Linked DNA regions of Homo sapiens: region 2 is linked to region 1. The links come from fine-mapping of genetic effects on gene expression. A gene starts in region 1. The other region holds a variant in brackets. All regions are shown on one strand. Distances are from middle to middle. Region 1 holds the start of SCD5 (stearoyl-CoA desaturase 5). Region 2 holds the start of MIR575 (microRNA 575).

Region 1 (16,746 bases):
AGGGCATTGACTAACTGTCCCTTTGGCCAGAAACTCTCAAGCAGGCATTTTTGTGAGCTCAAGCCTTCAGATGCAGGTTTTTCCTCTAGTTGGAGTTTGCATTCTGTCCATTTTTTTTTTTTTTTTTGAGACGGAGTCTCACTCTGTCGCCTAGGCTGGAGTGCAGTGGCGCAATCTCGGCTCCCTGCAAGCTCCACCTCCCAGGTTCACGCCATTCTCCTGCCTCAGCCTCCCGAGTAGCTGGGACTACAGGTGCCCACCACCACGCCCGGCTAATTTTTGTATTTTTTTTAGTAGAGATGGGGTTTCACCGTGTTAGCGAGGATGGTCTCGATCTCCTGACCTTGTGATCAGCCCGCCTCGGCCTCCCAAACTGCTGGGATTATAGGCGTGAGCCACCATGCCCGGCCGCTTTCTGTCCTTGAAAGTCATGAACGCATTGCTGAGGACCTGGGGGCACCAAGAGCATTCTGTCCTGACAGCCTGCCCACTCATAAAACGAAAAGGATAAAAAGGGAAAACAACATGCTCTGGCCCCAAGGAGAACTAACAACTTGATGAACTAACAATTTGATGGCTCTTTCACGGATGACATTTTACCACCACACAAATTACTCTCTGCACACTGCACATCCAACACATCCCCTGCTGGGTGCACTGCATAGATGCCTCTTGTTTCCAGCACAACCTCATCTGGTGTGGAGGGTGGCAAGCAATGGACAGGCTAAGCCTATTTCCTCTACAAGTCAGGTCCTTGAAGTGCATGAGCAGCCCACTGGGGCATGAACTTGGCCCTAATGCTACACATAACCAGTAGGGAGGTGGTGAAAAAGGGCCTTCAGTGGGGGGAAATTTGTGGATCAAGGCACCAGGGCTTTCACTGAAAATAACCCTGAGTCAGTGGTCTGCCTCGTCCCTCTGCTTACTATGTAGCCTAGCCATCAGCACAGCTGATCTTAGCTGGTCTCTGATTGTCCCTCATTTCTTCCCTCAAAAGCTATTCATGAGACTGGGTACAGTGGCTCACGCCTGTAATCCCAGTACTTTGGGAGGACTGCTTGAGCCCAGGAATTCAAGACCGGCCTGGGCAACATGGTGAGACCCCCATCTCTACAAAAAAATGAAAAAGAAAATAGCCAGGTGTGGTGGTGCACACCTGTAGTCCCAGCTACTTGGGAGGCTGCGGTGGGAGCATTGCTTGAGCCCAGGAGACTGAGACTGCAGTGAGCTATGATCGTGCCACTGCACTCCAGCAAGACCCTGTCTCACAAAAAAAAAAAAAAAAAAAAAAAAAAGCAGCAGAGGCAGTAGCTATTCATCAGATAAGACCCATTGTTTGGACTGTTTCTAAGTCACAATTTTGGACCTTAAAACTCTAATATCTACCATTGTCTGCTATTTTTTTTTTTAGGGAGGCAATGAAGGTGGGGAGAGAATTAAGACTTACGGGCCGGGCGCAGTGGCTCACGCCTGTAATTCCAGCAGTTTAGGAGGCTGAGGTGGGTGGATCACGAGGTCAGGAGATTGAGACCATCCTGGCTAACACGGTGAAACCCCATCTCTACTAAAAATACAAAAAATTAGCCGGGCGTGGTGGCGGGCACCTGTAATCCCAACTACTTGGGAGGCTGAAGCAGGAGAATGGTGTGAACCCAGGAGGCGGAGCTTGCGGTGAGCCGAGATCGCACCACTGCACTCCAGCCTGGGCGACAGAGCGAGACTCTGTCTCAAAAAAAAAAAAAAGACTTAGGAAATAGCAGATGAAGCACAGGCAGAATTTATCCAGGAAGGTATGGAATGGGGTTTGGGACATGAGTCACAAAGGGGAAACCAGATTCCTTCAGTGTGTTAACTTCTCTAAGGAAGCTAGAGGACACTGGGGCCTGGGAGGTGTCCTCTAAGCCAAGATCTTTCAGAACAAAGGTTCTATCTTCACCACAGAGAGCGGTCCGGAAAGGGCAGAGGTGACCTGGCAAACTTGGAGAGAGGGGCCTTGTCCTTGTGGCTCCTGGTCCAGTGCCAGGGTCTTGGGGCTCAGAGGCTGTAAGAAGTGGAGCCAGTGAGCCCTAGGCATGTAAGATAATATTTTAAGTGCTCACTTTTCCCTGAGCACTCTCTGAACACCACAGCTATTAAAGATAAGCCTCAATCCCCTAGAGGTCACCAGGCTCTGAGGACCAAGCCCAGCCCTGCCTCTGGAAGCAGGGGGGAGAGAGGAGCTTGTTGGAGAACTCTGGGCAATAAGGGCTTTGGTTGGCAGTGTCGGAGTGTGTTGATGAAGCAACAGCTGAACATCATACAGTCTACAGTCAGTTGGAGAATTAAACCAACACATAAAGGTGATGGTGAAAAGGACACAGAAATGAGGAGGTGCACTGAGAGAAGGAAAGATGAAGCAGGAGATTTCCCAGAGCTTTGGGGAGACTTTAAAGGCTTTAGGGATCCCCAAAGATCCTACCTCTCTCACCATCCGTCAACTCTGCTATGCCCTCCCTGAGCCACACCCCCTAAGAGGTACCCACTTCTGGATGGGTTTACTTCCAAGAGCAGGGACTGCAGGATTTCAAGGGAAGGCTTGGAACCATAGTGGCCCCATTATCTACCTAGGCATTTGCAGCTGGCACCATGCCAAAAAAGCCCTGTAGAAAGAGGTCTTATTTTCTTCCTTCCTCTTCCCCTCTGGAAATAAAAGTAGGTTGTGTTTCTCCTGCCCGCCCCTAGAGATCAGGGAAACGGGAGCTGGAAGGGCATCTTGGATTACCTCGTCAAATTCTCACTCAGCATATCAATGCCTGTGCCTTTTGTCCTGGCTACTGCCGCTTCAGTAAAGGAGGCCAAAACCAGTTATTGCGGCCAGGGCGGCTGCGAAGTGGTTCAAAGATCAACGACTGGGGTCGTGTAGGGTGGGCACGCAGTCCCTGGGGCCCAGGGGAAGGGGAATGGTGGTCGGCGCCCGGGCTCCCTTCCCTACTGGCAGGAGTGGGGGTGCACGGAAGGAGGGTACCAGGAGAGCCACAGGTTCCCACTGGCCACATGGGAACAGGGTTTGGAGAAGGCTCTGCACAGCCACAGTCGGAGCTTCGTGCTAGGGTCAGACCGCTCTCGCCATGGGATCGGTTTGCTCACCGAGAAACTTCACCGAGAACTGCAAATGGGCATAGAAGATTGCGGAGGGGGCAGGGACAGGGGCCTTGGAGAGGCAAGAGGGGAACCGGTATCTTCCATCTGGTGCGCGTAAACCAAGACTCTATCCTGTGCCGGGTCTCTCCTCCCCGGTCCAACTCCCTTACTTGTCCTCATCTCTGTCCCCAAGGTCCGTGACCCGCGGAGGTGATGGGGGGGATAGGAGAGCCCCAGGGACCGCAGAGGTGACACAATCGCCCGCCCGTCCTCCCTCGCTGGGAGCCGATTCAGCCTGTGCCGAGCCTCTCCCTTCGCGCGCCTCTGCGCACAGCGGTGGCACCGCAGGACTCCGGGTCCCCCCCGGCTCTCCATCGGGAAGCCGGCAAATGCGCTTCCTCAGGCAGACCGCGGCGGGGTGGGGGCGGGGGGGGGGCGGAAGTTGAAATACTGGGACAGAAACACCTGCCCGTCCCAAGGGACGGAAAACTGGATGCCAAGGGGGCCGCGGCGCGCAGCGGGAGGCGAGGGGAGACCGGGGGTCGCTGCGCACCGCCCGCAGCCGAGGGGCGAGCGGCGACCTCGCGCGCCCCAGCGCGGCCTGGCCACGGAGGCCGGGGCGCAGGGGGCGCCGGCGGGACTTACCCCAGAGCAGAGTGAGTGGCTTGGCTTTGGGGATGAGCACCAGGGAGTACACGGCCCCCAAGTGGAGCAAGCTCATCAGGACGACATTCCTCCAGACGATGTTCTGCCGCTGCCCGCGCGCGCCTGGCCTCTCCGGGCCGCCGCCGCCCTCAGAGCTTTCGAGCCCGGCACGGATTTCTTCCTTGGCGTCGCAGAAAGGGATCTTCCCCGCGTCGGTGGCCGGGCCTGGCATGGCTGGGCGAGGTGGGCGCCCGCAGCAGCGGCAGGCAGGCAGGCGCTCTGCCCGAGCGGAGCTCGAGGGTGGGGGCGGGGGCTTCTGCCTTTTAGGGGGGAATTCTCCGCACGTCCAGTCCCCTCCTTCCAGCCCTTCTCCCGGGCTCCTGCGCTCTTCCCCAGGGTCTTAGCGTGGCCTAGGGATGCAGATCTTGGCGGCCGGCGTCTGTTGCTGGCGTATCCCCCATATGGCTGCCCGGGCTGAACTCGGCCGCGAGAAAGAGGAGGCGCGCGCGGGGCGGGAGGGGCGCGCGGCCGGGGAGGAGGAGCTGTGAAAATGGAACGGGGCCGGCGACGCTGGAGGGAGCGCTCCGAAGGAGCGCGGAAGAAAGCCCTGCTTAGCTACAGCCAATCAGGAGCGCCCGTGCGGCGCTTATAGACAAAGGCGCCCCCCTTTCGGCTTTTCGGGGCCGAACTGGGGAGCCCGCTGGGCGGGAGTTGGCCGCCTCCGCCCGGGGGCGGGTGGAAGGTGGCTCCCGGGGCAGGGAGCCTGCAGGGCGGCTCACAGCGCTTCTGCTCTTGTGTGTGTGTGACCCCCAAAATGCCTTTTATGGTATTTTTCCAGTCCCCCCCCCAAAAAAAAACTTCCCGAAACTGTCATCCCTTTGAGAAGCCTTTTATTTCTTCTCAAGCCTCAGGCCACCTGGGTTGGAGAATTTTAAATACTTGCTTGGAGTCGCGACCCTAGTTAAGGCCAGACCCACGATGAGAATCAGAAGTCCCTCAATCTGCCAGTTAGTAGGGCTCCTCGGGCCAGGGGAGGGTTGGAAGGCAGCTGCTCGTTCTTAATTAGGCAGCTGTGGATTACCCAGGCACACAGTAAGTGCTCAGTTGGTGCTTGTGAGGTGATGCACAGATGATTTGGGCCAGTTCGCTGCCCACCCTTTGCCCATCCGCCGCGCCACTCTGTTTATGGTCAATTCTAGCTAATCAGCGCACTTCTGCAACGCCTCCTTAGCTCTCAGTGAGGAACACTACCCTGAAATCAACACCATTGAGAATCGGGCTTTACAAAAAAATCACCCAGAATGTTCCAAGGAAAATTAACCTGTGAAAGATTTGTGTCTGCCCACTTCTCTCCTAGAGCTGATGGCTTAAGAGCTCTCCAGAGAGGACCCTAGTTGCACAGAAAATGGAGGGAGGATTGAGCTGGAAGTGTCTGAAGCAGGTGTGACCGCAATTGCGGGCAGGCAGCAGAAGTAAAAGGGCTCGGGACAGCATCTCTGAGTTCTAGTTTTAACTGGCTGGAACCCAGCCCAACTCTCTGGGCACGGATTTCCTTACCTGAGAAGCAGAACTAGTTTCTACTCTTCCTTCCAGCTTCCATATTCCATGAATGTGAGTTCGAAGGGGCGCCATTATATTGACCAAAACCAGCTGATTTTTAGATTAACCGTTGTTAGGAATCATTTCCAGGATTTCAAGAGAGGCAAAAAAATTTAAAAGACTGACTGCATGAAAGGGCCATGCATAAGCATCTTATTGTTAGCAGACCTGAGCCAGTCCTAGCAGCCAGACAAAACAATGCCTGATTTAAGCTAAAGCAAGGTATGTGGCACTTGTGGAATCTAGGCCACTGAGTCAGTGTTACTGTGTTGCTTCAGACGGAGCTGAAATTATAGAATTTGCCTGGAGACCAGATAAATGTCGGCCCTATATAATGACCAGTCAGACAGTGGAACATGAAGCTGGAGGGTGCGATTTTCATCTGTCTGTTCAACCTGGGCTATGTAATGAACCACGTTTTCTTCTCATGCTCCCTCTGCTCCCCATACCCAGCAGACCTTCCTACTCCCTGTGGCTCTCTAGTTCAGACTGTCCTTTCTCTCTGGGGTAGACTAGTTGCTCGGCCAAAAGCCTCTCTCCGGGTTATTGGAAAGGCTCAATGCTGTAAAGACCCTCATTCTAAACATTCAGTCATTTATTTGGCATTTATTGGGCATCTGCTATGTGCCAGGACCAGTGGGCACAGGGGATCCAAGGATGAATAAAGTCTGGTCCCGCCCCTAAAGGAGCTCCCATCTAGAAGCAAAGATGGAGCAAACAAATGTAACCTCTTGACTATGACCTTGGAAGGGCAGAAAGTTACAGTCCATTATCGGAAAAAAAAATTTAATTAGGTATCAAACTTACATACAAGGAGTCTAAGGGAAGCAAAAATAGTTCCTTATTGTCCCCCCTGAGAACCTTATTAGGTCAGCTGTTCTATCTTGAATCCATCTTTTGTTTGTTTGTTTGTTTTTGTTTTTGAGACGGAGTCTCGCTCTGTTGCCCAGGCTGGTGTGCAGAGGCCTGATCTCGGCTCACTGCAAGATCTGCCTCCCGGGTTCACGCCATTCTCCTGCCTCAGCCTCCCGAGTAGCTGGGACTACAGGTGCCCGCCACCACGCCCGGCTATTTTTTTTTTTTTTTTTTTTTTTGTATTTTTAGTAGAGACGGGGGTTTCACTGCGTTAGCCAGGATGGTCTCGATCTCCTGACCTTGTGATCCGCCAGCCTTGGCCTCCCAAAGTGGTGGGATTGCAGGCGTGAGCCACTGTGCCCGGCCCTTGAATCCATCTTGAATGAACATCTTTCTCTTTTCCCTCCTGTGGGTCAGACCAGGTATGACCAGTCATTTCAGCTGGCTGTCCTCATAATGGAGAAGATGTTTTTGTGTGTTGAGGGAGGAAAGAAGTGTTACTTAGGTTTGTCAGAGCCTGCCTATAAAAGGATTGTTGAAGAAAAATGGTCCTTCCAGGTCCAGCCTCAGAGTGAAACATCTACAAGATCCAAGATATATTCTTGCTGATAACGACGGTCCTCTTTAGCCAATTATGCCATAGGGGTCACTGCCTCTTTTCTCTGTCTTGCCAAAGACCCTAGTATATTTTCCTAGCTTCTAGTCAGGACCCCAGGAGTGGATAAGTATTCACCTGTCCCAGGATGGGGCAAATGGGACAGTAACCCTTATCCTGTCAAACACGTAATTACCAAAAATGTAATAAGAGCCATAATGGTGGTATACGCAAGATAATGTAGAGGTGCAAAGGAGGGAGTTGTTAATTCACACAGAAGCAGGGAGGAGGGGGAGTGATACCTGGGGAAGGATTTTTAAAAAATATTTAATTGTGGTAAAATACATGTAACATAAAATGTATGTAACAAAATTTACCACTGTAACCGTTTTTAAATGTACAGTTCAGTAGTGTTAACTATATATGCACATTACTGTGCAACCGATCTGCAGAACTTTATCATTTTGCAAAACTGAAACTTTATGCTCATTAAACTCCCCTTTCAATCTCCATCCAGATGCTGGCAACCACTGTGCTACTTTGTTTCAATTAGTTTGACTACTCTAGATACATCATATAAGTGAAATAATAGAGGATTTGTCTTTCTGTGACTGGCTTATTTCACTTAGAATGTTTTCAAAGCTCATCCAGGTTGTATGTGTTAGAATTCCCTTCCTTTTAAGACTGAATAATATTCTATTGTATGGATATGAATTTTGTTTATCCATTCATCTATCTAACAGTGGACATTTGGGTTGCGCCACCTTTTGGCTACTGGAAATAATGTTGCTGGGAACATGGGTGTACAAAGATCTCTTCAGGACCTGCTTTCAATTCTTTTCGGTATATATATGTATATCCAGAAGTGGTATTGCTGGATCTTATGGTAATTCTATGTTTAATTTTTTGAGGAACTGTCATACTGTTTTCCATAGTGGCTGCACCATTTCATATTTCCAACAACAGTGCCCAGCGGTTCCAATTTCTCCAAATCCCCACTGATACTTTTTCTGTTTTTTAGATAATAGCCATCCTAGTGGGTAAGGAGTGATATCTCATGGTAGTTTTTATTGCCCTCCCTTAATAATTAGTGATATTGAGCATCTTTTCAAGTGCTTGTTGGTCATTTGTATACCCTCTTTGGAGAAAGATCTATTCAAGTCCTCTATTTTTAAATAAGGTTTTTGTTGTTGTGGTTGTTGAGTTGTAGGAGTTCTTTACATATTCTGAATATTAACCTATCAGATATATGACTTGCAAATATTTTCTTCCATTCTGTAGGTTTCCTTTTTCACTCTGTTGATTGTGTTCTTTGATGCACTGACATTTTAAATTTTGATGTAGTCCAGTTTATCTATTTTTACTTATATTGTCTGTGCTTGTGCTTTTGGTGTCGTATCCAATAAATCATTGCCAAATCCAGTGTCATGAAGCTTTTCCTCTATATTTTCTTTTAAGAGTTTTATAGTTTTAGCTATAAAACTTACATTTAGGTCTTTAATATACTTCGAGTTAATTTTTGTGTATTGTAGAAGATAAATGCCCAGTTTCATTCTTTTATGTGTAGATATCCAGTCTTCCTAGCACCATTTGTTGAAGAAACTATCCTTTCCCCATTGAATGGTCTTGGCTCCCCTGTTGAAGATCAGTTGACCGTATATATGAGAGTTTTTTTTTTTTTTTCGGCTATTTCACTCCATTGGTCTGTATGTCTGTCTTTATGCCAGTACCACATTGTTTGAATTATTGTAGCTTTGAAATCAGGAAGTTTTGAAATCAGGAAGTTTGAGACCTCCAACTTTGTTCTCTTTTTTTTTTTTTTTTTTTCAAGATTGTTTTGGCTATTCAGGGCTTACTGAGATTCCATACCAGTTTTAGGATCTTTTTAGGTCTGCCAAAAATGATATTGAGATTTTGATAGGGATTGCAGTAAACCTGTATATAACTTTAATTAGTATTTTCATGTTAATGATATTAAGTCTTCCAATCCATGAACATGGCATGTCTTTTCACTTATTTATGTCTTCCTTAATTTCTCAGCAGCATTTTGTAGTTTTCAGTGTACAGTTATTTTGCCTCATTGGTTAAGTTTACTGGGTAAGGATTTTGAAAGATTGTTGTTTAATTAAAATATATCATGAGCCTCAAATTCAAGCCACATGTGTAATTGTAATGTAGCCACATTAAAAAGGTAGAAACAGAAAAAAACTTTAATAATATATTTTATTTAACTCAATGTATCCAAAATATTATCTTTTCAATGTAAAATCAGTATAAAATTATTGATACATTTTATACTTTTTTCATACTATGTCTCAAAATTCCATGTTTCCACTTAACAACACGACACACCTTAATTCAGATTAACGACAAGTGCTTGTAGCCACATATGGCTAATGGCTGTCATGTAAGACAGCACTGTTGAAGTATGAATAGTTCAAAGAAATGGTAGGGGATATTCCAGGCAGAGAAAAGTGCGTAAGTAAAGTTTTTGCACTTGGCATTCAGGGAGGTATATGGAATATCTGAAGTGAAAGTAGGGAAGCGTAGGAGATGAAGCTGAAATGCCATGCAGTGGGCAGCAGATGAGGGTACGTGGGTGTCTTGAGTGCCGTGCAGACAGAGCTATGAGGTAGGTGAGGGGAGCCACAGAAAGACTTTATGTAGCACAGTACTGGGATCAAGTTTGCACTGCAGAAAGACCACTCTGGAAGAGAGTGGGGAATGATTGTATTGGGGGTGCAGAGAGCTAAGATTGAAGGTGTGAAGATCAGTTAGGACACTATTTTAAGAATCTGTTGAGCAATGATGAGGGCCTGAATTAAGGCAAGGGCACAGATTCTGGAGAACAATAAATAGAGAAGATGGAATCAAGCCAGAGAAACTCAAATGGAAGAGTCAAAGAGATTTGATGCTGGATTAAACATAAAGAAGGAGGAAGAAAAATCTAGATTCTTTTTGGGTCTCTGAACTGGGTATTCAGGTGAAGGACAATGTCACTCACTGAAATACTAAGTTTGTGTTTATTTCCTCTCTTGTAAAGTGAGAATAATACCTACCTTATAGTATTCCTGTGACAACTAAAGTCAATATCCATAAAGTGATTAGAACAGTGCCTGGCACATAGTAAGGAATTAGTAAATATTATCACCATAATCATAATCATTTTTGAGATAGGAACTGAAGAAATAAATTAAAGAAGAAAATGAATTCCTGTTTTAGACATTCAAGTGAAACTTTGGGTGGATTTTTGAATATATAGGTGCCTGGAGCTTGGCAAAAAGTCTAGGCTGAAAATAACAATTTAGTCATGGTTCAATATAGTAAAATCCATGTCAGTAGAAACAGTTGGCCAGGAAAGGTAAGAAGAGAAAAGGGCTCAGGATAGAATCCTAGTGAAACACTATTTATGAACACAGCAAAGAAAAAGAAGCCAGTGGTGTGAACTGAGAAGGGAAAATGAGAGAAGTGGAAGAATCAGCAGAGTGTGGGAGAGCAGGATTCGCAATGTCGAAAATGTTATGGAAAGGCCAGGAAAGAAGGGAAATGAAGAGCACACTGTATACAAAGGTCATGGCTGACATTTGCTGAGGACTTTTCAACGAGTGATGGGAACAGACCTTGCACAGAGGTGACTTTAAGAACAAGAGGGAGGAGACAAGCATGGAACGCATATGTAAGTTAATTTTCCTAGATGCTTGGCAGTAAAGAGGAGAGGGATAGAGAAGCAAAGTTGAGTGTGTGCTTTCTAGGGCTGGATGGGATCAGGTGAGCAGATGGTTGGGCTAACTTAGAGCAGAGGGACAGCTTTTCATTGGAGACTGGAAGGAAATGAGGATGAAGGGAGCTTACAGAGTGGGCCAATAAAGTAAGGGAGGGTGCCATGATGGCCTGTTTGCTCTGAAGGGAAGATCAGGTGTCTGCTGGACAAGCAGAGTGGGAATTTGGTAAAGAGTTGGGAAAAAGTGATGAAGGCCTCCAAAAGCTGTTGAGAAAAATGAGAGAGGAAGCTGATCAAGAACATTTAAAAGGTTGCCTGGCCTAATTAAGGGCCCAACTAAGAATGGTTGCCACAAGCTTAAACTGGCTTAGTCTGCACAGTTGTGGTTACACAGCATCCCTCAGCAGTCTGATGGAATATCCATATTGAAGTTGTAGGGTGGGTTTGATGGGAGGACAAAGGATCCAGGTACTTGAGGAAATATGACTAGAAGGAAGCTAAGATGTTATAGACAGTGGAGGAATCAAGGGAACCAAGGTTTTGAAGAAATTGAAGAGAAAATCTGTTTATTAGGGAATGAAAATAAATGAAGTAATGGCCATTATGCCCCAAGAGTGGGATCTGGGACTTGAGACCTATGGTTGTGAAAGAGTTTCCAACGATAAGCTCCAAGGTGAGGCCACAGGATTATAGTGGAGGGTTGGCAGTTCCTGGAAATGAGGAAGATGAAGTATTATGGACAGGACCTCCAAAGGGGGTTGAAATCACAGGCTGCATCCAGATTTAGCTGGAGAAGATTGTGAGCTGGGTGCCCAAGGGGACTTCCTAAAGAAAGACAAGTAACAGCTTTCAAATGTCAATGAACAGTTAGAAGATTCTAAATACAAAACTAGCAGCTCTGAGATGTATGAGGACAAGACCATCACAGCCAGAATTCCTGGATTCTGGCCAGCAGTGCATACCTTGGAGTAGAAGTTGCTTCTGGTAGAGAGGATAGAAAGAAGACAGAAAGTATTATATGTTAATGCTACCTACAAAAACTGTGTGTGAGAGAGAAACATGATGAGGCATGTGGTCTGGTATGATCAGGAGGGCTTCGTGGAGGAGGTGGCAGCAAACAAGGCCCTGGAAGATAGGTGACTTTGCAGAGACTCCCACTTGGATAATAGCCTAAGAATAGGCTTAGATATGGGGGTGAGCCTAGCAAAACACCTAGCACTTAGATAAGGTTGTATTTTGGCCAGGCACAGTGGCTCACACCTGTAATCCCAGCACTTTGGAAGGCCAAGGTGGGTGGATCACTTGAGCCCAAGACTTTTAGATTAGCCCGGGCAACATGGCAAAATCCTGTCTCTACAAGAAATACAAAAAATTAGCTGGGTGTGGTGGCATGCACCTGTAATCCCAGCTACTTGGGAGGCTGAGGTGGGAGGATCACCTGAGCCTGGGAGGTCAAGGCTGCAGTGAGTCATGATTGTACCACTGCACTCCAGCCTGGGTGATAGAGCAAGAACCTGTGGAGAAAATGCAGGCTTTAGGGAGGGAGGAAAGAGCAAGAAAAGATCCATTCTTGAAGTTAAAAATTTACAATGATTCTCAGATCTATGCATTTCTCAAAAAAATGCAGATTTTGTCTACAGGACAAAATCACAATCTTGTGAAAATGACCTAGGTTTGGCAGTCTAAAACCTGGGTTTGCAGGTACATGGATTGGAAGAATCAATACTGTTAAAATGTCCATACTGGCCGGGCGCGGTGGCTCATGCCTGTAATCCCAGCACTTTGGGAGGCCGAGGCAGGTGGATCACGAGGTCAGGAGATTGAGACCATCCTGGCTAACACGGTGAAACCCCGTCTCTACTAAAAATACAAAAAATTAGCCAGGCGGGGTGGCAGGCGCCTGTAGTTCCAGCTACTCAGGAGGCTGAGGCAGGAGAATGGCTCAGGAACCCGGGAGGCGGAGCTTGCAGTGAGCCGAGATTGCGCCACTGCACTCCAGCCTGGGCGACAGAGCGAGACTCCGTCTCAAAAAAAAAAAAAAAAAAAAAAAAGTCCATACTACCCAAAGCAATCTACAGGTTCAATGCAATCCTCATCAAAATACCAATGACATTCTTCACAGAAATAGAAAAGACAGTCCTAAAAATGTACATGAAACCACAAAAGGCACAGAAAAGCCAAAGCTATCCTGAGCAAAAAGAATAAAACTGGAGGAATCACATTACTTGATTTACAGAGCCATAGTAACCAACACAGCATGACACTGGCATAAAAACAGACACATAGTCCAATGGAACAGAATAGAGAACCCAGAAACAAATCTATATATCTACAGTGAACTCATTTTCGACAAAGGTGCCAAAGGCATACATTAGAAAAAGGACAGTCTCTTCAGTAAATGGTGCTGGGAAAACTGGATATCCATATGCAGAAGAACAAAACTAGACCCCTATCTCTCACTATATAAAAAATCAAAATGGATTACAGACTTAAATCTAAGACTTTAGACTATCAAAGTACTACAAGAAAACATTGGGAGAAACTCTGCAGGACATTGGACTGGACAAAGACTTCTTTTTTTTTTTTTTTTTTTTGAGATGGAGTTTCACTCTTGTCACCCAGGCTGGAGTGCAATGGCACAATCTTGGCTTACTGTAACCTCTGCATCCTGGGTTCAAGCGATTCTCCTGCCTCAGCCTCCTGACTAGCTGGGATTACAGGTGTGCTCCACCACACCTGACTAATTTTGTATTTTTAGTAGGGTCCAGGGTTTCACCATGTTGACCAGGCTGGTCTCAAACTCCTGACCTCAGGTGATCTGCCCACCTTGGCCTCCCAAAGTGCTGGGATTACAGGCGTGAGCCACTGTACCCAGCCAGATTTCTTGAGTAATATCCCACAAGCACAGGCAACCAAAGCAAAAGTGGACAAATGGGATCACATCAAGTTAAAAAGCTTCTGCACAGCATAGGAAACAGCCAATAAAGTGAATATGGAACCCACAGAATGGGAGAAAATATTTGCAAACTACCCATCTGGCAAGTGATTAATAACCAAAATATATAAGAAGCTCAAACTCCACAGGAAAAAAATACTGATTTTAAAATGGGCAAAAGATCTGAACAGACATTTCTCAAAAGAAGACAAACAAATGACCAACAGGTATATGATACAATGCTGAACATTATCATCAGAGAAATGCAAATCAAACCTACAATGACATATTATTTCACCTCGGTTAAAATGGCTTTTATCCAAAAGACAGACAATAACAAATACTGGTAAGGATATGGAGAAAAGAGAACCCTCATACACTGTTGGTGGAAATGGAAATTATTAATAATATCATTGAGGACTCTGAGTAAAAGGTATAATTTCTCTATGATTTCTTATAACTGTATATGAATAAATAATTACTTCAAAATTAATAGTTTAATTAAAAATGTGAAGTGGTTGAAGCATTGCATTCAAGGTTTATTCACCCATTCATTCATAGAATATTCCAGAAATATTTATTGTATATATGTTTATAAGTATGCTTATATAATATAAATATATAAAATATAAAATATAAATATATTTATATGACCCAGCAATCTCACTGCTAGGTACATACCCAAAAGAAAGGAAATCAGTACATGGAAGAGGTATCTGTACTCCCATGTTTATTGCAGCACAATTTAGAAGCAACCTAAGTGTCCATCAACAGATGAATGGATAAAGAAAATGTGGTACATACACTCAATGGAGTACTAGTCAGCCATAAAAAAGAATGGGATCCTGTCCTTTGCAACAACATGAATGGAACTTGAGGTCATTATGTTAAATGAAATAAGCCAGGCACAGAAAGGCAACCTTTACATGTTGTCATGTATTTGTGGGAGCTAAAAATTAAAATGACTGAACTCATGGAGATAGAAAGTAGGACAATGGCTACCAGGGAAGGGAAGCATAGTTGGGAAAGATAGTGTGGCAGGGGAGAAAGGGGGATGGTTAATGGGTACAAAAATATAGTTAGATAGAATGAATAAAATATAGTATTTGGCCGGGCGCAGTGGCTCATGCCTGTAATCCCAGCACTTTGGGAGGCCAAGGCGGGTGGATCACCAGGTCAGGAGTTCAAGACCAGCCTGGCCAAGATGGTGAAACCCCATCTCTACTAAAAATACAAAAAAATTAGCCAGGCATGGAGGCGAGCAACTGTAATCCCAGCTACTCGGGAGGCTGAGGCAGAGAATTGCTTGAACCCAGGAGGCGGAGGTTGCAGTGAGCCAAGATCACACCACTACACTCCAGCCTGGCTGACAGAGCGAGACTCCGTCTCAAAAAAAAAAAAAAAAAAAAAATATATATATATATATATGTATAGTATTTGATTGCACAGCAAGGTGACTACAGTCAATAATAATTTATTGTACATTTAAAAATAACTAAAGGAGTATAACTGGATTGTTTGTAACACAAAGAACGATAAATGCTTGAGGTAATGGACACCCCATTTACCCCAATGTGATTATTATGCATTGCATGCCTGTATCAGAATATCTCATGTACCCCATAAACATGTATACCCACTATGTACCCACAAAAATTAAAAATTAACAATAAAAAAAAGACCTGGGTTGAAGTCTGGCCCTCCCACTCTGAATTGGCACATCCAAGTACTGTGTGATTTGGGGACAATGAGTCTCTTTCAGATCTTCAGTTTCATCCTATATATTATGGGAATTAAGACAGATCTATGCTGGTAATCCTCTCCAGGCAAAGTGCCAAATAATCTCAACATCAGTATTTTATGTGCAAAATGGAGATAATACCACACATTTCACAGGAATAGAACTTTGTAGAGTTTGGTACCTAAATTAGTGTGAACCACTTATTTTATTACTATTTTTTTAATCATTCTAGACAGATGGACTGAATGCAGTTGTAATAACCTGCCTGGCCAGAAAGCCAGGATGCTCCTGGGGGTCCCAGACTGTGAAGAGAGGCATAACTGGGTAGGCTACAGGGATTCAGACCTTGAAGGAATGAATTCTAGCAGGGCCAGGATTGGCGTGCTTTGAAGGGAACTGTGAAAAAAAATCATCTGCTTTGGTTTTTCAGAGGTAATCATTAAAGGCAACTCCTTTGGCACAAAAAAGGAATCAGCTCTGCGGCTCTTATGAATTTAAAGGCGAAGGAGGTTGCCTCTTGGCTAAGGGACATGAAGAACAGCTTCAAGTTTAAACAATCTTTGTGCTCACAGTGTGAGATAATCACTCACAGGCTTTACATTAGAATGATTCCAGTGAAGCATAATGTTGGAAAGTTAGCCTTCAAGGTTACAGGAAGATGGGTTTTGAGATACAGCAACACCACGGCTTAGAAGAAAATCAGTCCTCTCTGCTTCCTCCAGTCCCAGGAGGGTTGGTGTCTCTCTTTCTGTACTAAATAGATTGGAAAAATTCCGCACTGAGAATTTATATAGCAGTGGATGATGGGAGACCTGGTCCTCTAAAATGAATGCTTCTATTGCTTTAGATGAGAAAAAGAGTGAAGGGTTTTCCTTTAACAAAGACCCTTATTGCTTAAGACCCTTCCAACATTTCCTGATGACTTTTTTTTTTTTTTTTTTTTTTTTGAGACAGAGTCTCACTCTGTCACCAGGCTGGAGTGCAGTGGTGCGATCTCGGCTCACTGCAACCTCCGCCTCCTGGGTTCAAGCGATTCTCCTGCCTCAGCCTCCCCAGTAGCTGGGACTGCAGGCGTGCGCCAGTACGCCCAGCTAATTTTTTTTTGAGACAGTTTCGCTCTTGTTGCCCAGGTTGGAGTGCAATGGCGTGATCTCGGCTCACCGCAACCTCTGCCTCCCAGTTTCAAGCGATTCTCCTGCCTCAGCTTCCCGAGTAGCTGGGATTACAGGCATGTGCCACCACACCCGGCTAATTTTGTATTTTTAGTAGAGTCGGGGTTTCTCCATGTTGGTTAGGCTGGTCTTGAACTCGTGACCTCAGGTGATCTACTGGCCTCAGCCTCCCAAAGTGTTGGGATTACAGGCGTGAGCCACCATGACTGCTGCAATTTGGCAGTAGGGAATTGGGCTCTGGAGATGACCAGATTTGAAGGCTATTCGTTCCTGATTCATAAGATAGTTAAGAAGGTCTACTTTATGAAAAACCCATTGACATACTGAAACCTACCCAAACCTGTCACTTTGGTCAGCAATATG
Region 2 (8,000 bases), 49 kb before region 1:
TCGACAGACTGAGAACAAGGAGGAGCTACCTACACCCTGCAGGAGTAACACAGGACCAAACACTATCTCCAAAACATCTGTGTAACAATTACTTCTTCACACATGCAAGAAGTAAAGGGAATAAAAAGACATTCAAAATTAGAAGCAAATAAGCACACTTTGTAAAGATTAAGAATGTAATGGTGACACTGACTGCAAGTGTCCACCCAGGCTAATAAAATTACTTGGAGAAAAAATGTTCTTCAAGATCCAGGGAAGCCATGGAGAGTCTTTTGAGTCCTCGAGAATATGGCTTTACTTTTGCCAGCCACAAGAGAGCTGCTTGTAGCAAAAAAAAAAAAAAGTCATGAAACCAAAAGGCAGTTCATTATGTCTGTTTAAAAGAAAGCACTGTTGGAGAAGAGGAAGCTCTGACGAAACGGTCTGCTAGGTGGACAGGTAGGGAGGACTCAGAAGTCCATTTTACAGGTAGTGAATCTCATGTTTAAGGCCAAAGTGAAGTTGTTTGCCAAGGGCTCTCTAGCACAGAGTTCCTCTAAACCTTGGGCAGCAAATGCCAAAGAACTTACCTTTCCCAGAGTTCCCCAACTAGTGAAACATTCAGCAAGTCAGCCCAGGCTAGGCTGGTTTCTTGGTTATATGCTCTTAGATCCGTGTTCCCTCCTCTCACAGCACTTACATATTAACCTCTGTGACTATGTCTTCCTCCCCAGTCTTCAAATTTCATGAGAACAAGGTCTGTTTTTGTTTTCCATGGTATCTTCAGGGCTTCACAAAGAGCTGTGTAAACCCATCATAAAGCATACAATAAGCCCATAATAAGTATCGGTGGAATAAATAAATGAGCAAAATCAACAAATGTGTGACACAGAACAGGAGTTTTTCATTTAACTTGTATTTTAGAGACAGAGTCTCACTCTGTCGCTCAGGCTGGAGTGCAGTGGCGTGATCATAGCTCACTGCAGCCTCTAACTCCTGGCCTCAAGCAATCCTCCCACATCAGCCTCCTTAGTAGCTAGGACTACAGGCATGCACCACCATACCCGGCTAAGAGAAGAGGAGTTTGAGGACTAACTACTTGCATTCGACATTCATGGGGACATTTACATTGGGCCTGCATATTGATATTGCTTAAAATATGTTCTTTATGTTTCACTAAATCTTTAAATCTCTTAGGACTGAGAAAAGCCAAATCCTATGTACATCAGTCAGGGAGGTAAGGTCCCTATATATGCTGTTTTAAAGTTATAAATGTCTGTTTCAGAGCACAAGGATTAATAACTTTAAAATCTTTTGAATCTTTTACTTTTATTTAGTTAGTTAGTTATTTTTTTGAGACGGAGTCTTGTTCTGTCACCAGGCTGGAGTGCACTGGTGCAATCTCCGCGCACTGCAACCTTTGACTCCCTGGTTCAAGCAATTCTCCTGCCTCAGCCTACCGAGTAGCTGGGATTACAGGCACGCGCCACTACGCCAAGCTGATTTTTGTATTTTTAGAAGAGATGGGGTTTCACCATGTTGGCCAGGCTGGTCTTGATCTCCTGACCTTGTGATCTGCCAGTTTCCGCCTCCCAAAGTGCTGGGATTACAGGCGTGAGCCACCACGCCCAGCCTCTTTTCTCTAGATTGGAAAATATCTTTGTTAGAAAAACATTCCTCTCCTTTAGACTACAAATTGGAAGAATTTCTAAAAATAGAACAGTGACAAAACCCTGGATTGTGGATTTTAGCAAGAAATACTGCCCTGTTAAAGACCTGCTTTAAAGCAAAAGAAATCCCCATAAGTCTGTGGGCAGGAGAATCACCATCACAAGGCCTGAAGTATTTAACTTTAGTTAAATATAATTTTAAACCAGGAAAATCTGCTCATGTATGGGAATTTGTAGTTCTATAAGGATTAGGGAAAACAGAAGGCAGAATACAAGCAATATCTCTCAAGGTTGACCTTGAATTTTAAAAAATTATATATATATATATATATGCAAAATCAGGCAAGATCTTGACACTCCAAAATGGTGTCTGTGGCTCTTAGTGAGGTGGAAGCACAGGGACGTGGGAATAGGTGGGAAGAAGAGAGTCTTTTAAAACCAGCCAGCTGAAATGTTCTTGTCAATAAAGGCATCATTTTACTTCTTCTACTAGGTTAGGATGATTTGAAGGCCTGCATAAACCAAAAGCTGTCACTATAATTCAAGGATAATTGGAACAAATGGCTGCTTAGCACCAGAAAGAGATGGGGCTGAGGAGATGGAATCTTCCAGCCTTTGGGTTGTTCCAGGGAGCATGATCTTCACCTTAAATCCCAGCTGAACAATATCTGTCCCTTTTCCTGTCCCCTCACCAAAACTGGACCTGGAGAAGCCTATGTATTTGTTTGCATGGAATCCTCGCCCTGTGAGCACACACACATCCACTCAGTTCTTTCACGCTTCTCTCTCTTCCCCATTCTTCACACACACAGCTACATCTGTTTCCCTTTTTCCCCCTAAATAAACTTACTCCAGTGTTGAAAATGGATACAAATTGAATCCTACCCACCAAATACTGCATCACATTTTCCCAAAAATGACATGACTTTACCCCAGTGATAAAAGGGAGGTCCTCTTTGCTACCATTAAAATATATCTTTTACTTAATTCCCTGCCCTCTCCTCACCAAGAAAACTCAGTAAGGAACTGCAGGGACCTTAAAGACCATCCAGACTTTGGCTGTGCAGAGTGTGTTCTGGGGACCCACACCATCAGTTTGCCCAGGAGCACATGGGAAGAGAAGAATCCCCAGCCCCACTGAAAACCACAGGACTGGAGTCTGCATTTTAGCAAGATCCTATGTGATTCCTGTGCACATTCCAGTTTGAGAGACATGTGTCTAGGGAGCATGTCTCACCTACTTCATGTGAGAGTTACCTGGGGAGCTTTTACAGCCACCCAAGCCTCACCTGAGACCAAATTAATCCACATTCTCTAGATGGCTATGTGTGTTAAAAGCTCCCTGGGGTGGGGGTGGGGGGTTCTGTGTATGGCCAGAGTTGAGTGGCACTGCTCCTGTCCAACTGGCTCATTGTGCAGACAGCCTGAGTAGCCCAAGGTCATGACATAAGCCAGTGGCAGGGCTGAATTTAAAGGCACAAAGCAGTGCGCCCCAGAGTCACGCGGGTGGACTCTGACAGTGATAGTGTCCATTTCCCACATCTGCCAGGAGTGTGGCTCTTTGTGGGCTGAGTCACCTGCGGGGAAGGGTTTCAGGTTAGAATGTTCATAGGGTGTCACCCAAATCACTGTTTTTAAGCCCTTCTCTACTCCCAAAGAAGTCATTTAATTTGGCCTGGAGGATAGCATCAAAAAACTATGTAACCAATGATATTTCTGCTTGACCTGCCAAATGTGTATTAAATGCATCCATATTTGCCTCCCCCCTCAGCCATCTTCCCCTTTTCCCCTGACTCCAGTTTATAGGAAAAGCAGCCAGCACATACCCCCCTGACAGAAGTCTATGAAAATCCAACTGAGAGGGATTAAAAGGCAGACAGGGCGTATTCCATTTCCTTGAGGCCCTGGGAAAATGTCACA[T/C]CCGAGGCTGAGCCAGTCCTGATGAGAAAGCCTCGTTGCTGCCAGCTGGGAGGGTTCAAGGTTTGCCAAGCACTGAAGACACTGTTTATGAAAAGCTTTAAATGTCAAGTACCCTGGCTCCTTAGGGTCCTCCCACAAGATAACGCAGTCTCTTGTCAAGCACAGACTCGCCCGAAAAATGAGACCTGAGAAAGGGGCAAGGCTGAGGCATCTGTTCAAAGACAAGCTTCTCAGAGGCCCTGGCTTCTTATGTGGAGGAAAACTTATCTCCCCGTTTTGCAGGAGTTAAGAAGGGCAAAAGAGAATGACAGTGCAGGGAGAGAAAGCGGGAAATCAGAAGAGAAAGGAGAAGGGAGAGAAGAAAGTGAGAGAATGCAGGAAGAGAGAAATGTGCAGATACTAAAAATAAATTCAAAGGCCCTGCTTTTCAACCTCCTCAGTTTTCATATCACAGAAAAGCAGCTAAATCTTCTGAGAAAGCTCAAATGCAAGGACTAAGAATGGGAAAGCAGAGAGAGGGAGGAGAAGTCCTTTCATCAAAATACTTAGGAATCTCAGTGCGTGGTCACTTGGCTGCCACAGGAGGGGTCTGGGTGGTCCTAAGAGGGAGAGGGACTCCTTCCAGGCTCCCCCCAGGACCCACCCTCCCCTCACCAGCAGCCCACCCTCCTAACCCGACAGGGAGGAAACCTGCTCAGTGCTGCTATTTACAATTTCCATTCAGGCAATCTTCACATTTTGGAATGGCATTTGCCAAGGGAGACGATCTCAGCTCCTCTTCTATTTTCAGGTTCCCTCTTGCATAGCGGATGGCATCAGTACTAAGCTCCAAGAAGCAATTTAGAAGAGTGGTTGCTGGAAAGTGGGGGAACCCATGCCAATCTACAGACCTGCAGAGCCTGGGGATGAAGCTTTTATTTTTAACACTGGGATCTGTGAGGCTGACCTATATTTCACTTCTTATATCGGCAGAAGTGACAAGCCTCGAAGGCCAGGGCACAGAGCTGAGCCTCAGGAGTCTGAGGCTTTGAACACTTCACTCAGAGGAACAGAAGCAACAAGACACCAAGCCCACCATGGACAGAGACAGCCGCTAAAACAGAAGGTGCCAAAGTGCCTAGGCTAAGGTTGCAGGGTGCACTCAGTAGACCAGATGGGAAGAACTTGATGTCAGTTTTACCTTCAGAACTTGGAAAGTCTATAGCCAGACCAAACTATGCAGCTAACAAGAAGATGGGGGGTGAGGATGGGGGTGGAGGTGGGCACAAATTGAAGGCCCAGGAAAGGAGAAAATGGGTAGGAGAATGTCGAAAAAATTAGGAGAGATGAAAGAAAGGGGCCAGGCATGGTGGCTCATGCCTGTAATCCCAGCACTTTGGGAGGCTGAGGCAGGCAGATCACCTGAGGCCAGGAGTTTGAGACCAGCCTGGCCAACATGGCAAAACCCAGTGTCTACTAAAAATACAAAAATTAACTAGGCATGGTGGCACACGCCTGTAATTCCAGCTACTTGGGAGGCTGAGGCAGGGGAATCATTTGAACCTGGGAGGCGGAGGTTGCAGTGAGCTGAGATCACACCACTGCACTCCAGCCTGGGCGACAGAGCAAGACTGTCTCAAAAAACAGAAAAGAAAGAAAGAAAGGGGTGGTGTAGATGTGGGGAGAGGGAATGTTAAATTTGCATATTTCAGTAGTGGAACCTGTCCAACACTTCAGAGTCCCTTGGTCAAACAGGCAGAAAAGAAGGCAGCATTAAACAATGCGCTCAAAAAGGATGGCTTAACACCATCAGATAATGTTTTTCAAAATACGTCTAGTCTCCACTATTATCATATTTCATATTTTATTTCTCCTACTCATTCTCAAAACCAAACCCTCTAAAGCATATTTGTCTGGCCAGCCTTATGATGACAAGTCTTCAAATGCATGATACCATGTTGAATTTAATTTTATGCCTGAAACACTAAAGGCTGGCACGGCTCCATTATCTTTTTGTCAAACCCTCACATTTTAATCTGCCATCCAGTCAGTGGACTGGAAACAGAGAAAAATCACTTCAGATTATGAAAAATTTTGACCCTGCACCACCAGAATTTGTTTAAATCAAATTGTCATCTAAATGGAAAGCAGTATAGTGATTTAGTGTTGGTGTAGAGGCCCTGTGGCTCAGTGACAAGAGGCTCCAGGAGGAAGGGCACAGCCTGAGATGCCTTCCTCCTCTGGGTGTCCACAGGCACATCACACTAAGCAGGTGTAATATGGAAACCAGCATCTCTCTCCACTCCCTTCTAGAATCATCAGTCAATGGCACCATCACCCACTCGGTCACCCAAGTAAAATTCCTGCTGGTGGCAGCAGTGGTGGGGATGGTGGGTCATCGAGACCCCCTCTCCTGCCCTCCTGGACCAGTCAGGACAGGCATGGCACAGTGATGATGAGAGCAGGCGCTGGAGTTAAACTACACGGCTGTGAGTCCCAGTTGGTTACTTGCTAGCCATGTGCCATTCAGCCAAGTCACTTAGCCTCTCTATGCCTCAACTTTCTTATCTATAAAACCTCTTTAGGCTGGGCAAGGTGGCTCACGCCTGTAATCCCAGCACTTTGGGAGGCTGAGGCAGGTGGATCACTTGAGGTCAGGAGTTCAAGACCAGCCTGGCCAACATGGTGAAACCCCATCTCTACTAAAAATACAAAATTAGCCAGGTGTGGTGGTGTGCACCTGTAATCCCAGTTACTCGGGAAGCTGAGGCAGCATTAGCTAAGACTGTTCCTCCCCCACCCCCCTCCCCCCGTCCATGCAATTATCAGGACCTGTCAAGTTCAAAGTCCTCTCCATTCCATGCTCTTTCCTACTTGTAGCCGCCCTCACCATCTCTCACTAGAACCAACACAACATCTCCCTCCTTGGTCTCCTTGTCTGTAGTCTTGCCCCCCTCAAATCCATCCTCCATAGAGCCACCCACACTGCATATCAAGACATGAAACCAAACTGTTGTTGTTGTTGAGAGAGGATCTCCCTCTGTCACCCAGGCTGGAGTGTTGTGGCGCAATCTTGGCTCACCACAGCCTCTGCCTCCTGGGCTCAAGTAATCCTCCCACCTTGACCTCTCAAAGTGCTGGGATTATAGGCGTGAGCCACTACATGTGATCCCACTCCCATTCTCAAAACCCTTCCATGGCACCTCACCTTCCACAGAGGGAAAACCCAAACTTCTTAGTGTGACACATAAGGAGCCTTCCCCACCCTCTCTCCATCCTCGCTTTCAGTCTCTCCTCTCCCATCTCCTTTCCCGTCACTCTCTGGTTACCCTGAGTTGCAATTCATCTCCATCCTGCTGTTGCAAAGTTCTATGCCTTTGTCTGTGTGGTTCTTCTGTGGAAAAGTCCTTTAGGTCTTGATCCAGTCATCATCTCCTTCAGATGGCTTCCCAGGACCCCGAACCCAGGAGGGCTCTTCACCCTGGGTTCCCATAGCCCTGTGCATTTCACACTCACCCAAACACAATGAGACCCTGTGGGCCTTAAGGGTGGGGCTCATCTCTTTAGACCCTCAGTACCTAGCATTCAATTCAACTGAATTGAATTGCCCCCGTGAGGGAGGTCTTTCTATTCGCATTTTACAGCTGAGGAAACCAAAATCCAGAGACGGGAATTATACTGCCTGAAGCCACACAGCTAGTAAGTGACTGCACTGGTATTCAAACCCAAATCTATTATTGTGGGTGAGGTGGTTAAGGACTCTGGAGTGAAAGTGCTGGGCACATATCCCGGCTCCCGCACTTACTGGCCATGTGACCTTGGTCAAATCACTTATCTTGTAGAGCCTCGTCTGCAAAATGGGGATGATTTTAGTACCTCCATCAGAGGTATTGTGAAGAATGAACAAAATAACATATGGTCCTTAGCTTTGTACCTGGAACATCCTAAGCCCTATATAAACTTCAGGAAAAGAGAGTCCTAACACATGAAAAATACCAACAGGATGCATTTTTTTAAAGTACAGCCACTGGCTTCAAACACTTTTGCAGTGCAGAATCCATTAACGGCTACGCCAAGATTATCTTGAAGATGATGTTCATTTGGCTGCTCTGGAGAAGTCAAAAAAGTAAACAACAGAAAACAGATCAGCTGGTGGGGTGATTGCACCCCATTTCCAAGAGACTGGGTTAGTGAGTGCATCTCTGTGAGGAATAAGTAGAAACAATCTGGAGGACTCTGGAGACGTTCAGAGGATGACAGTGAATCCAGAGCAAGCTGTTCACCTCCTGGGAGAGGGGGAGGCCCACAGAACACTACAACCAGTGGGGTGCAGTGTCTCACATCTGTAATCCCAACACTTTGGGAGGCCAAGATGGGAAGATCACTTGAGGCCAGGAGTTGAACACCAGACTGGGCAATATATCAAGATCCCTGTCTCTCCAAAAACAAAAA

The links.
Region 2: its variant is fine-mapped to the expression of SCD5 in spleen (GTEx, PIP above 0.99).

What each region holds. Positions count from the first base shown.
Region 1 is chr4:82,794,541-82,811,286 of GRCh38, forward strand. SCD5 (stearoyl-CoA desaturase 5) reads right to left here and starts at 4,256. Exons shown (of 5, transcript NM_001037582.3): 1 at 3,766-4,256. The coding sequence starts at 3,997. RefSeq lists enhancers at 2,482-3,003, 3,980-4,697, 4,698-5,414 and silencers at 3,812-3,861, 4,192-4,611.
Region 2 is chr4:82,750,312-82,758,311 of GRCh38, forward strand. All of the region lies in intron 1 of SCD5 (stearoyl-CoA desaturase 5), which reads right to left. It overlaps MIR575 (microRNA 575), which reads right to left and starts at 3,119; the gene lies at 3,026-3,119. The variant T/C (reference allele first, on the strand shown) is at 3,570.